Linked DNA regions of Homo sapiens: region 1 is linked to region 2. The links come from fine-mapping of genetic effects on gene expression. Tissue or cell type: whole blood. Region 2 holds a variant in brackets; the other region holds the start of a gene. All regions are shown on one strand. Distances are between the middles of the regions.

Region 1 (8,149 bases), 45 kb before region 2:
TTACTCTCTTTTTTCTGGCTTTATGGTAATTCACTGTCTGAATGCACCATCTTTTATTTAACCAGTTCTCTACTGATGGGCTGTTTTTTCCAGTCTTTCATTATCACAAACAGTGCTGCAACAGTGCTACCTTTAAACACTCCATTCTCTACATGTGGAAGGATAAATCCTAAAAGTGGAATTCTGGGCTAAAGGGCATGTGTATGCTTTTATTTTTATAGACATTGCCAAATGGTAGTCAGTGGTCTTTTTTAACACCTCAATGGTCTTGAGGTGTTTAAAAAACAAGTGGGGGTCAGGGTAACAATTACTGACAAATTGATTTCCATACTGAATGTACCAGTTTATACTTACCAGAAATGTAAGTACATGTTATTTAAATGAACACTTGATGATAAGATCAAATTTGTGAAAATACTTGTGTTCTTAGTATGGTACTCTTGTGTGGGTTGACTTCAGAATCACTTCTTTTTAGGGGCTTTGGGGGAAGGGCAGCTTATAAAAAGCTTTCCTTGGTTGCAGCTCCAAGGAGGAGGTAGCACCTGAAAACGGCTTCTCTTGGCGCCCTTATCTACATTTCCTTGATGAAACAATGGGTACTCACTGAAGATGCTGGGTAAAATATTCATTCATTTATTCCTTCAGTCAACAAATATTTATCAAAAGCCTACTATTTGGTGCTAGCTGCTGGAGATGGAATGGAAACAAAATCAGACCAAACACTCCTTTCACTGACATTTTCAGGCTTTTGAAAGGACACAGACATTAATACAACTAAGGGTAAAGTAACACACTGGGAAAGAAATGCCTATCATGCCACTGGAGCCCGGAACAGGGTCCGAGGGTCAGCAAGGGTGACCAGAGGAAATATGTTTGAATTGAGATATGAAAGATGAGTAAAAGACTAGGTGAAGAAAGTCTCTTCTTCCTCTGGAAGAAAAAGCATAGTTAACAAATAAAGAAGGCTGGGTATGGTGGCTCACACCTGTAATCCCAGCACTTTGTGAGGCTGAGGCACGTGGATCACTTGAGGTCAGGAGTTTGAGACCAGTCAGGGCAGCATAGAGAGACCCCATCTCTACAAAAAAAAAAGAAAGAAAAGCAAGAAAAGAAAGGAAAGAAAGGGAAGAAAGGGAGAAAGAAAGAAAAAGAAAGAAAGAAAGAAAGAGAAAGAAAGAAAGAAAAAGAAAGAAAGAAAGAAAGGAAAGAAAAGGAAAAGAAAAGAAAAGAATTAGCTGGTGTGGTGGTGGCAAAGAAAGAAAAAAGAAAGAATTAGCTGGGTGTGGTGGTGTGTAACTGTAGTCCCAGCTACTTAGGAGGCTGAGGTGGTAGGATAGCTTGAGCCCAGAAAGTCAAGGCTGCAGTGAGCAGTGATCGTGCCACTGTACTCCAGCCTGGAAAACAAAGTGAGACCCTTTCTCAACAACAACAACAAATAAAGAAGAGAGGCAATAATACCTACCTCATAGCATCGTTAGAAAAATTAAATAATACATGTAATGCATTTAGCAAAATGTTCAGCACGTATCAGTTACTTGAAGAATGCTTATTTTGTTTCCACTCTTTCTTTCTTCTTTTTTTTTTTTTTGAGATGGAGTTTCCCTCTTGTTGCCCAGGCTGGAGTGCAATGGTCTGATCGCAGCTCAGTGCAACCTCTGCCTGCCAGGTTCAGGTGATTCTCCTGCCTCGGCCTCCCAAGTAGTTGGGATTAAAGGCATGCGCCACCATGCCTGGCTAATTTTGTATTTTTAGTAGAGAATGTTGGTCCATGTTGGTCAGGCTGGTCTCGAACTCCTGACCTCAGGTGATCTGCCCGCCTCAGCCTCTCAAAGTGCTGGGATTACAGGTGTGAGCCACCATGCCCAGCTCTTTTTTTTTTTTTTTTTTAAATAACCATAGTGAATGTTAAAATCCCAGTTCCCCAAGCAAAACATTACCACCCTACTTATGTACTTACTTCTAAACTCTACCCCACACTGCCTTGGGTTGTTAGTTATCTTATCTTATTCAGGTCTTGTTTACTCAACCAGGTGACAAGCTTATTTAGAACAAGAATCTGGCTTTATACTTTTTAGCAAAATAATAGCTACTATTTGTTGAGCATATATGACATACTCTTTATGGGCATTATTTCCAACCCTCACAACAACCCTGTTTTACAGATTATTTTCCTCATTTTACAGATAAGGAAACTAAAGTTCAAAGGGGTCAGTTAGCCTGGCCAAGGTGTTGAAGGCAGGACTAAATCCTGATGCAGGTAGCTACATTTGTAGCTGACAGAATGGTAAAGCATAGAGCTGCCCTCACCCAAACCCTTCTTATTTCCAACTGGCATGACCTTTAGACAATGGCAGGGAATATGGGGAGAAAGAATTGTTGGAGAGGTGCCCATCCCTTCTTCCAGCTGTGTGAAGTATAAATTTAGAACTCAAACTAAGTAGAACTCAAATGGTCATTGTAGAATTCCTGCATTCATTCAGCAAGCCTAGGCTGCTAATGAGCAAAACCCCTCACTGGGAGTTTTGTAGTTGATGATACAGATAATGTTAAGATTCATAGAATGTTTTTTATGTGCCAGGCATTGTTCTAAGCGCTTTATATGGATTAATTCATTTAATATCAGGTTAAGACTGTTATGATCTCACAGAACAGCTGAGGAAACAGAACTACAAGAAGGTTAAAGGGTTCGCCCAAGGCCTTCACCTGGCAAAGTAGTGGCGTTTGGATCTGGCAGTGATTTCGCAGCTTGAGACCTATTTAATAACAGTGTGAGAGAAGGGTCACACAGTCAAGCAAAAAAACAGACGAAACTCTGGTATAGCGAAGGACCAAAAGTTCTGCGGGCTGAGCAGGAAAGTTGGCTCCAAATGTCTGCCTGCCTGCCAGCAGACCTCCAGCCCCAACCTTCTGCTTTCCCGGCTTCCCCACCCCCTCATTCCCGACAGACCACAGCCAGCCAGCCAGGAAAGGAGGGGAAAGGTCGCAGTGGGGATGGCTCCTCCCTTCCCGTCTTAGAGCCCTTCTTAAGCAGAGCCCGCCGAGCTCGCTGAGATGTGGAAAGTCACAGGGTTCTTTCCCATCCGGCACGGGCACTTGACCCGGGTACACGGAACCGCCAGTTCTAAAGCCACCAGCGGCCTTCCCTTCCACGGCGTGTACACCCCTTCCCGGGGGTCCTCCCCATTCCCAGTGTCTCTCCGGGACTCTACTTTCTGAGATCCCCCGTTGCGTGCTCTCAAGACAGACCGCACAGTCTTGGCTGGGTGGGTTCGGGGGTGATTAGTAAGGCAGCCTAGCCCCCCAAATCTGGACATAAGGCTGGTCTGTGACCTCCTGGCTCTTTAGTTCAAGCCGAAAGCACCCTTAAAAATCATCTAGCGGCCGGGCGCGGTGGCTCACGCCTGTAGCCCCAGCACTTTGGGAGGCAGAGGTGGGAGGATGGCTTGAGATCAGGAGTTCGAGACCAGCCTGGGCAACATAGCGAGACTGTCTCTATTTAAAAAAAAAAAAGAAGAAGAAGAAGAAAAATCATCTAGTGGCCAATGTCTTCATTACAGATGAGAAAACCGAGGCCCATTTAAATACCAAGTGACTTGCCCATATGCAGTTAGGATCCCACACCAGGGCCAGGAGTATTTCACGTTTTCTGAAGCGACACGACAAACTCTCATAGAAAGCAGAGCTTGCAGAGCTTAATATGTTGCACAAGGGCCTCACCATTCCAGAGATACCGATGGCAACTGAAACTCGGGATTTGGAATCTTGGTACAGCTATGAAGTGAAACAAAACCAGCTCTTCAGTCCTTGAAATGAAGAAAATAACGAGTGGGGTAGGGGTCTGGTGCCCTCTGACAATTTAGTGCACCCGAAATCTCTGGGGAAGAACCCACCCTTCACGGCGGGGCTTCACGGACACGAAGGCCATCGGTGTTTTTCACCTACTGGGGAGAAGGGATATGTGCTCTCTGACTCCTTCAAATGTTTTCTACAGCAGAGATGGCAGTCGAGATTAATACACACGCCTCGTCTCACTCCAGAACACAATGACTCAAAACCGCACGACGTGTACTTTTGGAAACAGCTCCGCGGGAGAGCACCCGGGACAATCCCCAAACCCCGTTGCCCGCGGGGTGGGGCCGCGGACGTGCGCCACGTCGTGTGCGTCCCGGGCGTGCGTGCGGCCTCCAGTGCGCGTGCGCGTACCCTCCTGGGGCGTGCTCGCGGCTATAAGGGGCGGAGGCTGGGCGGCGTTGCTCTGCGCTCTGCGGCTGACGGCGCTTTTGTCTCCGGTGAGTTTTGTGGCGGGAAGCTTCTGCGCTGGTGCTTAGTAACCGACTTTCCTCCGGACTCCTGCACGACCTGCTCCTACAGCCGGCGATCCACTCCCGGCTGTTCCCCCGGAGGTGAGCGGCCCTGTGGGCTTCCCCGGCTCCCCACCCCCATCGCTAGAGTGCTCGCCGCGCTAGCAGCCTCGCGTTCCAGGGCTGGGGGTGCGCCGCCGGGATCCTCTCTGATCGCCCACGCCCCATCTGGGGTCCCCATTCAGCCGTCAGCCCTGTTTTGTCCTAAGGTGGTCCTAACTAGGATCCACGTGGCCCATCCCACGCCCACAGGTGCTGAGTTAGGCATCCCTGCCATGCCCTCCCAGAGCACCTTCACGATCTCCTTGCTGTCCCAACACTTAGCGTGTTGCGTGTTAACTACCCTTTGTCTATAAGGTTTGCAATGTGGCCCTAGTATCTTCCAGGGTACCTAACACATTGCAGATATTCATGGTATGTTTGTTAAATAAATGAACTTGATAGATTTGACCCTCATAGAGTTATTTGGACTTGCAAAAAGTTTGTAGTTAACTCCAATCTGTGATGTGGGAGAGACTTCTAGGCAGGTTCCTTTCTCCAGGGCATGTTCTTATATTTCCCATTACCCACCACCCCCCTGCAAAAGGACTGGGCCTATTTCAGGAAGGTGACTGATGCCTGCACTGTAGCACAGGGGTTGTGTATTGTGCCTTGCAGGAACAAAATTTTCAATAAAGTAAATGTTTGTTTGTTTGTTTTTGAGACGGAGTTTTGCTTTTGTTGCCGAGGCTGGAGTGCAATGGCGCGATCTTGGCTCACTGCAACCTCTGCCTCCCGGGTTCAAGCAATTCTGCCTCAGCCTCCCGAGTAGCTGGGATTACAGGCATGTGCCACTATGCCCGGCTAATTTTTGTATTTGTAGTAGAGACAGGGTTTCACCATGTTGGTCAGGCTGGTCTCGAATTCCTGACCTCAGGTGATCCACCCGCCTCGGCCTCCCAGAGCGCTGGGATTACAGGTATGAGCCACCGCGCCTGGCCTAAGAAAGTAAAAGTTTTAAGAAGTGTTCTTGAATTAGTCCAAGAAGCAACACTGGCTCCGCAGCCATGAAGTTTGCAATGTAAAATATTCTTGGAGAGTTGCTGTGCAACTCCCTGGTCCCTGTGTCCCTCACTGGCTAAGCCTCTCCTTCAGCCCTGTGAGAGGACAGAAGAGTCAGGGCTGGATGCATGCATATCCCCAAAAGGCTATAGATTCATCCTTTCCTCTTTTTTCTCAGGGTCCAGAGGCCTTTCAGAAGGAGAAGGCAGCTCTGTTTCTCTGCAGAGGAGTAGGGTCCTTTCAGCCATGAAGCATGTGTTGAACCTCTACCTGTTAGGTGTGGTACTGACCCTACTCTCCATCTTCGTTAGAGTGATGGAGTCCCTAGAGGGCTTACTAGAGAGCCCATCGCCTGGGACCTCCTGGACCACCAGAAGCCAACTAGCCAACACAGAGCCCACCAAGGGCCTTCCAGACCATCCATCCAGAAGCATGTGATAAGACCTCCTTCCATACTGGCCATATTTTGGAACACTGACCTAGACATGTCCAGATGGGAGTCCCATTCCTAGCAGACAAGCTGAGCACCGTTGTAACCAGAGAACTATTACTAGGCCTTGAAGAACCTGTCTAACTGGATGCTCATTGCCTGGGCAAGGCCTGTTTAGGCCGGTTGCGGTGGCTCATGCCTGTAATCCTAGCACTTTGGGAGGCTGAGGTGGGTGGATCACCTGAGGTCAGGAGTTCGAGACCAGCCTCGCCAACATGGCGAAACCCCATCTCTACTAAAAATACAAAAGTTAGCTGGGTGTGGTGGCAGAGGCCTGTAATCCCAGCTCCTTGGGAGGCTGAGGCGGGAGAATTGCTTGAACCCGGGGACGGAGGTTGCAGTGAGCCGAGATCGCACTGCTGTACCCAGCCTGGGCCACAGTGCAAGACTCCATCTCAAAAAAAAAAGAAAAGAAAAAGCCTGTTTAATGCACAGGTGTGAGTGGATTGCTTATGGCTATGAGATAGGTTGATCTCGCCCTTACCCCGGGGTCTGGTGTATGCTGTGCTTTCCTCAGCAGTATGGCTCTGACATCTCTTAGATGTCCCAACTTCAGCTGTTGGGAGATGGTGATATTTTCAACCCTACTTCCTAAACATCTGTCTGGGGTTCCTTTAGTCTTGAATGTCTTATGCTCAATTATTTGGTGTTGAGCCTCTCTTCCACAAGAGCTCCTCCATGTTTGGATAGCAGTTGAAGAGGTTGTGTGGGTGGGCTGTTGGGAGTGAGGATGGAGTGTTCAGTGCCCATTTCTCATTTTACATTTTAAAGTCGTTCCTCCAACATAGTGTGTATTGGTCTGAAGGGGGTGGTGGGATGCCAAAGCCTGCTCAAGTTATGGACATTGTGGCCACCATGTGGCTTAAATGATTTTTTCTAACTAATAAAGTGGAATATATATTTCTACTGTGTGTCATGTTGACTTCTGCTCTTGAAATTCGTGGTAGGGAGGGTCTTAATTTCTAGACCTGAGGTTTAATTTTAACATCTCAATACTTTGGAGCAGGAAAGTGCTTAAATCACTTTGTTTAAAACATAGTATCAGTAGACTTCTGAATTTGGGGGCAGAGGCAGTTGGGTCTGCCATGTATCAACCAGTTATGTGAGCCTAGGCCACGATTATTGCAGGCCTGTCATGACTAGATCTGTAAAGAAGAAGAAAAATGATCACCACTTCCAGCCCCTCTCCTTGAGTCTCTGGGGCAAAGAGGACTATCAGTCCAGGAGGCTGTGGGCTTTTTCTTTTGTACTCTTCAGCGTGTTTTACTTACCCACCAAAAAGGCTGCTTAATTCAGATTGTTCTCAAAGTCAGTTGGTAAAGTGTCCACACCACACAGATGATTATATCTGCTCTCCCAGATCTAAGCAACTTGGCCTTTACTCAAAAGTTGGAGGGGTTTTTTTTTCTTGTATCCATCACTCTTGTACTTCCTGTCCCACGTACAATTGTATTCACTCCTTTGCCCTTCAGAATATATTTATTTACACTCCCATCTGGGCGTGTGCATCATTTTATTAACTTGACTGACTTTTGCTAAAGCGCAACAATGAAGTACAGTGTCTTCTGTTAAGCCAGTTTTGCTTCCTGAGTGTTCTTAAAATGTCACTACCCTAGAAGCCTGTGGGTTAAGCATCACTTTCATTTATTGCACAGTGGTTGTCACTAGTGTTATTTATCAAGTATTTCCAGTTTCCCACCTTTCGGGTACATGGTAAATTGGTCCCCTTGTGGCTGGCAGGGTTTATATGACTGTTACTTTGTTAGCATAGTACTACTCTCAAAAGTCTATTTGGCTTTTTCTCTGGTTTCAGTTTCATGTGCCAGTAGTTACCCTCTTCTAGTCATATTTCTTATATTTGATATATTTTCTCATTCTCATGCTTCTAATTTGGGGTATTTTTGAACCTTCAATTGGAGAGCCTGCACCTTAAGTCTCTCCTCCAAGTGGCTTAGTTTAATTGAAGTGATCTGTGTGCCACCACCCCCTTGTGGTTGGATGGAGCCATGTCATTAGTTCTGGCCAATGAGCTGTGAGTGGTAGTGGCTTGCGTTAATTCTACGTGAGAGCATTTCAGTGCTGGAGAAACCTGCGAGGACCTCTTTTTCCCTCTGTGCAGTGACCAGCAGTGCTTCCTATGGAACTGTTCATTAGTGTAGGTCCTGGAATGAGGATGCATGGCGCAGGGCCCTTAATCTGTCCAATCTGACTGTGATGTGGGAGAGACTTCTAGACATGTTGCTTTCTCTAGGGTATG
Region 2 (8,195 bases):
CCAGGAGTTTGAGGCTGCAGTGAAGTGAGCTATGATCACACCACTGCACTGCAGCCTGGGTGACAGAGTGAGACCCTGTCTCAAAAAAAACCTATGACTTTAGAAGTTTCAATGCTACAAACTTTTTTAAAATTGACATGGACTAAAACAAATTATTAAAATTTAAAATTCAAGTCAGCCACAGTGGCACACACTTTTAGTCCCAGCTACCTAGGAGACTGAGGCAGGAGGATCACTTGAGCCCAAGAGTCCAGCCTGGGCAACATAGCATAGCAGGACCCCAGCTGCTTTTTCTTTGTTTGTTTGTTTGTTTGTTTGTTTGTTTGTTTTCTGAGACAGAGTTTCGCTCTTGTTGCCCAGGCTGGAGTGTGTGCTATGGTCTTGGCTTACTGCAATCTCTGCCTCCCGGGTTCAAGCGATTCTCCTGCCTCAGCATCCCAAGTAGCTGGGATTACAGGTGCCTGCCACCATCCCTGGCTAATTTTTTTGTATTTTTAGTAGAGACAGGGTTTCACCATGTTGGTCTGGCTGGTCTCGAACTCCTGATCTCAGGTGATCTGCCTGCCTTAGCCATTTTTCTGTTTTTTGTTTTTTTTAAGTGGGAAACATTCATTATGCAAAATTTAAATAGACTTTGAAATTTTTTTTGGTGAAGTTTGTAGCATTTAGACTTCTCAAGTTATGAAAGCTTCAACCTGCACCAAGACTTTTGAAGAACACTGCATATGGAAAGCGCAGACCTAAGTGTAAAACCCTCTGTCTGTTATACTCATTTGCATACTGATTGTATTGCCATGTAACTTGTAAGTTCTTGAGGACAAGTCTTCATTTAGCAAACAGAAAGATACAGCCCCTACATTGAAAGAGCTCAGGTCTAATGGTGCAGGCAGATAAGTCCCCTAGCAGAACCCACTGGATGCTCAGGATTCGGCTTAGCCACAGGAGCACAGGGCAAAGATGGCTATCTAGGACAGTGGGGAAGTGATCCAGATGGAGAGCAGAGAACTGTTGTTTGTTTGTTTGTTCTTTGGAGATGGAGTCTCAGTTACTCTGCCGCCCAGGCCGGAGGGCAGTGGTGCAATCTTGGCTCACTGCAACCTCCACCTCCCAGGTTCCAGAAGTTCTCCTGCCTCAGCCTCCTGAGTGTCTGGGATTATAGACGCATGCCACCACGCCTGGCTACTTTTTGTATTTTCAGTAGAGACGGGGTTTCACCGTTTTGGCCAGACTGGTCTCAAACTCCTGACCTCATTTGATCCGCCTGCCTCAGCCTCCCAAAATGGTGGTATTACAAGCATGAGCCACCGCACCTGGCCGGGAGCAGAGAACTTTCTTATGGCAGAAGCAGGCTGTCCTTGGGCCTCTTCGGGCTGAAGGCAGTGGATTGAGGCCACAGCTGTGAGCAGGCAGCTAACGTCCTTCAGTTCTAACTGAAGAGTAGAGGAGCTTAGATCTCAGACTTGGTGTGTCAGTTGAGGAAGTCCACTGGCTTTTTGGGATATGCTACAGGGAAAGAGAACCCTGTCTTTAAGGAGACCTGATTAACTATAATTCCCTGTGTCTCCACAGGATGCAGAAGGCTATCAACAGGCTGAGCAGGCTTCTGAAACCTGGGGGGATGGTACTTCTGCGAGATTACGGCCGCTATGACATGGCTCAGCTTCGGTTTAAAAAAGGTATTTTGAGAGTGCTGAATCCTAACCACTAGAGATCATGTCCTTTGCAGGGACATGGATGAAGCTGGAAATCATCATTCTCAGCAAACTAACACAAGAACAGAAAACCAAACACCATATTTTCTCACTCATAAGTGGGAGTTGAACAATGAGAACACATGGACGCGGGGTGGGGGGCATCACACACTGGGGCCTGTCTGGAGGTGGGGGGGCTGGGAGAGGGAGAGCATTAGCAGAAATACCTAATGTAGATGACGGGTAGATAGGTGCAGCAAACCTCCATGGCACGTGTATACATATGTATCAAACCTGTATGTTCTGCACATGTACCCCAGAACTTAAAGTATAATTTTAAAAAAAAAAAAGGTATGTGGCCACTATAATCAAAAAATGGTGCTGCCATCAGAATAGAAACTCTAGAATTAGAACTCCTTATATAAAGCCATTTAATATGTGACAGAGTAGTATATTTTTTAAGAAAACTGAAGAGGCTTGTATAATCTAGATATTGAGGTCTTTTTAAGCAAGACAGCTACCTTTAGAAGAGCTTTTATTAGAAAGACATTTGAAAGACAGCCGGGCGCAGTGGCTCATGCCTGTAATTCCAACACTTTGGGAGGCCGAGTCGGGCAGATCACCTGAGGTCAAGAGTTCGAGACCAGCCCGACCAACATGGAGAAACCCTGTCTCTACTAAAAATACAAATTAGCCGGGCATGGTGGCACATGCCTGTAATCCCAGCTACTCGGGAGGCTGAGGCAGGAGAATCGCTTGAACCCAGGAGGCGGAGCTTGCAGTGAGCCGAGATCGCACCATTGCACTCCAGCCTGGGCAACAAGAGTGAAACTCTGTCTCAAAAAAAAAAAAAAAGACATCTGAAAGACATAAATAATTTTAAATGTGGCATGACAAAAGATGCCATTAAAAATGTAAAAGGCAAATGACGGAGTAAGAAGGAATATTTTCAGTGCATATAATAGATGAAGACTTAATATCTTTGCTCTTCAGGGAGCTGTCATGAAACTGATAAGGATCAGTGACCCACCCAAAAAGCAGGTGAAGAGTGTTTAGTCAGTTCACAGAAGAACGTATCTAAATGGCCAGTAAACAACACTTCAAGGAAATAAAAATAACAAGTTAGTACTTCTTATTGCTGGCCAATTCAAAGAAAGAGGTGCATTCCTTCATTACTGGTAGAAAAAGAAATTGTTACAGCCTTTTTTTTTTCAGATGGAGTTTTGCCCTTGTTGCCCAGGCTGGAGCGCAATGGCGCGATCTCGGCTCACTGCAACCTCTGCCTCCTGGGTCCACCCACCTTGGCCTCCCAAAATGCTGGAATTACAGGTGTGAGCCACTGTGCCCAGTATTAACAGCCTTTTTTTTTTTTTTTTTTTGAGACGGAGTCTCGCTCTGTCTCCCAGGCTGAAGCGCAATGGCACGATCTCGGCTCACTGCAACGTCTGTCTCTTGGGTTCAAGCAATTCTCCTGCCTCAGCCTCCCGAGTAGCCGAGACTACAGGCATGTGCCACCACGCCTGGCTAATTTTTTTGTATTTTTAGTAGAGACAGGGTTTCACCATGTTGGTCAGGCTGGTCTCAAACTCCTGACCTCAGGTGATCCACCCACCTCGGCCTCCCAAAGTCCTGGGATTACAGGCGTGAGCCACTGCTCCCAGCTTACAGCCTTTTTTTAAGTACCCAATTATTGTTCAGTCCAGTCTTTTTTTGAATATAGTCAAGAACTAGCACATAATACATGCAGGAGCAAAACTTTGTAAACAAAGTGAATGCCTCTGGATAGGGAGATGTCGTGCTTGTCACCTGAGGTGGACCCCATACCACTGAACTTGGAGGGATTTCTGTTGTGTATTCAGTGAGAGGAGAGCAATGTGCAAGGGAGTATTTTAAACTCCATCCCCGTATACCAGTATCTGCAGGGAAATAAGTATACACGTGTGATGATTTGGGCATTCGGGAAGGTCTAGAAGTATGTGCCAGGCTGGTAAACTGAGATGAGGTCAGGGAGGTTAGCAGCAGAAGGGAAAGCATGTTCATGATCAAAACAGTATCTGAGTTGTATTTATGATTCTGTAGACACGTGAAGAGACATGCAAAGGACAGTCACCACCAAAATGGTAATGGTTGTCTCAAGTTTCCTTAAACTCAGCTATATTGCTTAATTAAAGAAAAAAAATAGGCCAGGCACGGTGGCTCATGCCTTTAATCCCAGCACTTTGGGAGGCCAAGGCGGGTGGATCACCTGAGGTCAGGAGTTTGAGACCAGCCTAGCCAACATGGTGAAACCTTGTCTCTACTAAAAATACAAAAAATTAGCTGGGCGTGGTGGTGGGAACCTGTAATCCCAGCTACTTGGGAGGCTGAGGCAGGAGAATCACTTGAACCTGGGAG[T/G]CAGAGGTTGCAGTGATCTGAGGTCACGCCATTGCACCCAGCCTAGGCAACAAGAGCGAAACTCTGTCTCAAAAAAAATAAATAAATAAAAAGTTTGTGCTGTTAGTTTAATAGGGTTGGGAGAGTGAACAAGTTGTTTTCATCAAATAATTCTAGAGTTTTGGAGTGGGGTGCTTAGGAACCTCATGTTTTCTGACATTGTGACTTACTCCCGTTGAGCTGCTCTTCCCGAAGCACTGAGGCAGGAGTGCTCTCCACCCAACAAACTGGCCTCTCAGTTAACATTCCTTAGCAGTGCAAGTCAAAGAGACACTTTAAAGTGTCTCTGATTTTTAATACATCACTCTGCAGGTCAGTGTCTATCTGGAAATTTCTATGTGAGAGGTGATGGAACCAGAGTTTACTTCTTCACACAAGGTATGAAACACTCATCTTTTTACGCTAAAAGTCCCCAGTACCAGATGGTCTTCAAGGCACATTCAGAAGGAAAACTATCTGGCCCCTCCTGCCTTTTAGGCAGGCTGTTTCCTTCGGTTCCCCGCTGCTCACACCCTCTTCCACCCTGGGCTAGGCTACCCATGGCAGCCAGCCACTCGGGCCCCCAGGCAGCCCTGGCTTGTCCATGCCTTCAGTCCTGCTCTGCTCTCCCTGTCTGCCACTGTCCAAAATGGGAAGCCTGCCCACTCTGCAAGGCTCACCTCCAGTCCAGCCTGTCTCACCCTCTACACGGGGTTGTGCTTTGGTGTGCCTGGGTCAGGGTGAACCCTGGGTTCTAGGGGTGCCGGGAACTGCTCTCCTCTGCAACTGGCCCATCCACAGGCTTCATCCTTCACTTGGGCCTTCTGTTCCTGGGCCCTTTTTAGGGTCACCTTCTTTGAGCCTTTGGTTAAGATGATGAAACCTCTTTCCTAAAGCAATTGCTTTGACATACGTAGATAGTTTTGCATAAATTTTAAGGTGTTCATAGAGCCTAAAGGCCAAATATAAACCAAAGGTTTTTAAAAAAGAAAAAACCGCGGCCTATACACAGTGGCTTCCCCTACCTAAACATGAACTTGTTGTTACCAAGCCACCACTGCATTTATAACCAAATGGCCATGTAAAAAACACGACAGCAACTTCCCAGAGCCCCATTTAACAAGGACTTAGTAGATAAAAATGCCTTTTCTTGAGGGGAAAATGCATAAACATCTTTTATTTTCCACACTAGAGGAACTGGACACGCTTTTCACCACTGCTGGACTGGAAAAAGTTCAGAATCTGGTGGACCGCCGACTGCAGGTGAACCGAGGGAAGCAACTGACAATGTACCGGGTTTGGATTCAGTGCAAATACTGCAAGCCCCTTCTGTCCAGCACCAGCTAAGAGGCACCTGCTGCCAACACGATGCAAGCCCGTTGTGTTTCCGAGCTTTTTTAAAAAAAAATTTGTAGCACCGGGCATGGTGCATGCCTGTAATCCCAGCCACTCAGGAGGCTGAGGCAGGGAGGATCCATTGAGCCCAGGAGTCCAGCCTGGGCAAAATAGCGAGAGACCCTGAATCTGAAAGTAATGATAAAATAAAAAGAATATAAATGAGGTCTCGTTGATGCTGGACAATTCAAGAATTCAGACTTGAACCTTAAACCTAGGAAAAGTTACTTTGTATCAGGATTCTAACAATTATGCTTCATATTTGTGAAGTCCTTTAAAACATAATTTTCTCAAGTTCTTTCTTTGAGACCTCAATCTGTCTTAGCATTTTGTAACTAATAACTGAAATTTTATTCAAAGGAATTGTAAACCTTAAACCACCATTTATTTCCATGTGAAAAAGTGTTATATATGACAAGTGTTTTTTGATTGTAATTGCGTTAAATCTTTTGAGAGTGTAAATGCCGGGCTAGGCAATTGCAGTTAATACATACAGGGGTTAGTGAAGGGCTTATTAAGTTGTAGGGGAAGCAAGCTGGGAAGAATCAGATCAGATATTTTCCTGACAAGAAAAAAATGACCCTGTAGACAGCATCAAAATGTGGTGTTCTTGTTAAGTAATTGATCGTGGTCTTTGCTTTAATCTTAGTTCCGCCAGGCACGGTGGCTCACACCTGTAATCCCAGCACTTTGGGAGGCCGAGGCGGGCAGATCACCTGAGGTCAGGAGTTCGAGACCAGCGTGGCCAACATGGTGAAACCCCGTCTCTACTAAAGATAAAAAAATTAGCTGGGTGTGTTGGTGGGTGCCTGTAATCCAGCTACTCGGGAGGCTGAGGCAGGAGAATCACTTGAACCCAGGAGGCAGAGGTTGCAGTGAGCTGAGATTGCGCCACTGTACTCCAGCCTGGGCAACAAAGCAAGACTCTGTCTCAAAAAAATAAAAATAAAAAAAATCTTAGTTCCATGGAATTTTAAGCACTGTTCCCCCTCTAACCTATGTCTAAAGAATTAAAAGAATTTGGCTGGGTGCGGTAGCTCATGCCTGTAATCCCAACACTTTGGGAGGCTGAGGCAGGTGGATCACGAGGTCAGGAGATCGAGACCATCCTGGCTAACACGGTGAAACCTCGTCTCCACTAAAAATACCAAAAAAAATAGCTGGGCATGGTGGCATGCGCCTGTAGTCCCCTGTAGTCCCAGCTACTCGGGAGGCTAAGGCAGGAGAATCGTTTGAACCTGGGAGGCAGAGGTTGCAGTGAGCCGAGATCATGTCACTGCATTCCAGCCTGGGCAACAGAGGAAGACTCTGTCTCAAAAAAATAAAAGAAAAGAATTTTCACTTTTTGCAAAATTATCTTTTTTTACTGCACCCTTAAGTGTTTGACACAAAAGGAATTGAGAGAACTTCTTAATTTTAACCACATCATCACTTCACTTCTGAATGTGATCACTGTCAGTGTTAGATGCTTTTTTTTTTTTTTTTTAGGAGACAGGGCTCTCACTTTGTTGCCCAGGCTGGAGTTCAGTGGTGCAATGATAGCTCATTATCACCTCGAACTTCTGGCTTGAGCCATCGCTCCACCTCAGCCTCCTGAGTAGCTAGGACTGCAGGTGGGCACCATCATGCCTAGCTAATTGTTAGATCCTTTTTTTTTATGTTCTGCATTTTTTCAATTATTTTTACATATTTCTGTCTTGATCCATGCAGTTATAGGATATATCCTTAATTTTAGAAAGTAAGGACTTTTCGACCAGGCATGGCGGCTCACGCCTATAATCCCAGCACTTTGGGAGGCTGAGGTGGGCAGATCACTTGAGGTCAGGAGTTCCAGTCCAGCCCGGCTAACATAGTGAAACCCCGTCTCCACTAAAAAATAAAAAATCAGCCCGGCATGGTTGTGGGCGCCTGTAATCCCAGCTACTCAGGAGGCTGAGGTAGGAGAATTGCTTGAACCTGGGAGGCGGAGGTTGCAGTGAGCTGAGATGGTGCCATTGCACTCCAGCCTGGGCGACAAGAGCGAAACTGCATCTCAAAAACAAAGATGCCTAGCTTTCACCTTGTTGATGTTTTTCTAAATTTTGGAATAATAAATTTATATAGGAATACTGCAAGAATAGTCCATTTTTTTCTGATGTCCCAACATCAGCAAATATATTACCAAATATATCCATCACAAGTAGGAATACATGGAAACATTAATGCCAGCCACTAACCATTCATGTTTACCCAGTAGTCCCAATAATAGCTTTGTCACACAAAAACATGATTATGTTGGCTGGGCACAGTGGCTCCTGTAATCTTAGCATTTTGGGAGCCCAAGGCAGGAGGATGACTTGAGGCCAGGAGTTCAAGACCAGGCTGGGTAATGTAGCAAGACCCTGACTTTTTTTTTTTTTTTTTTTGAGATGGAGTTTCGCTCTTGTTGCCCAGGCTGGAGTACAATGGCACGATCTCGGCTCACTGCAATCTCCACCTCCCAAGTTTAAGTGATTCTCCTGCCTCAGCCTCCCAAGTAGCTGGAATTACAGGCATGCAGCACCATTCCCAGCTAAATTTTTTGTATTTTTAGTAGAGACAAGGTTTCTCCATGTTGGTCAGGCTGATCTCGAACTCCCGACCTCAGGTGATCTGCCCGCCTCAGCCTCCCAAAGTGCTGGGATTACAGGCGTGAGCCACCACGCCCGGCCAAGACCC

What was found. PIP is the estimated chance that this variant, and not a neighbour inherited with it, causes the effect.
Region 1: it holds the start of HILPDA, and the variant in region 2 is fine-mapped to the expression of HILPDA in whole blood (TOPMed, PIP 0.94).

Annotation. Positions count from the first base shown.
Region 1 is chr7:128,451,621-128,459,769 of GRCh38, forward strand. HILPDA (hypoxia inducible lipid droplet associated) reads left to right here and starts at 4,258. Exons shown (of 2, transcript NM_013332.4): 1 at 4,258-4,403; 2 at 5,581-6,798. The coding sequence starts at 5,649. The coding sequence ends at 5,840. It also overlaps the pseudogene EFCAB3P1. RefSeq lists enhancers at 2,286-2,992, 3,901-4,070, 7,755-8,049 and a silencer at 4,171-4,310.
Region 2 is chr7:128,496,467-128,504,661 of GRCh38, forward strand. It overlaps METTL2B (methyltransferase 2B, tRNA N3-cytidine), which reads left to right. Exons shown (of 9, transcript NM_018396.3): 7 at 1,570-1,676; 8 at 4,437-4,502; 9 at 5,296-8,195. The coding sequence ends at 5,450. Among named protein-coding and RNA genes, the nearest start is that of METTL2B, 24 kb to the left of the region's middle. The variant T/G (reference allele first, on the strand shown) is at 4,086.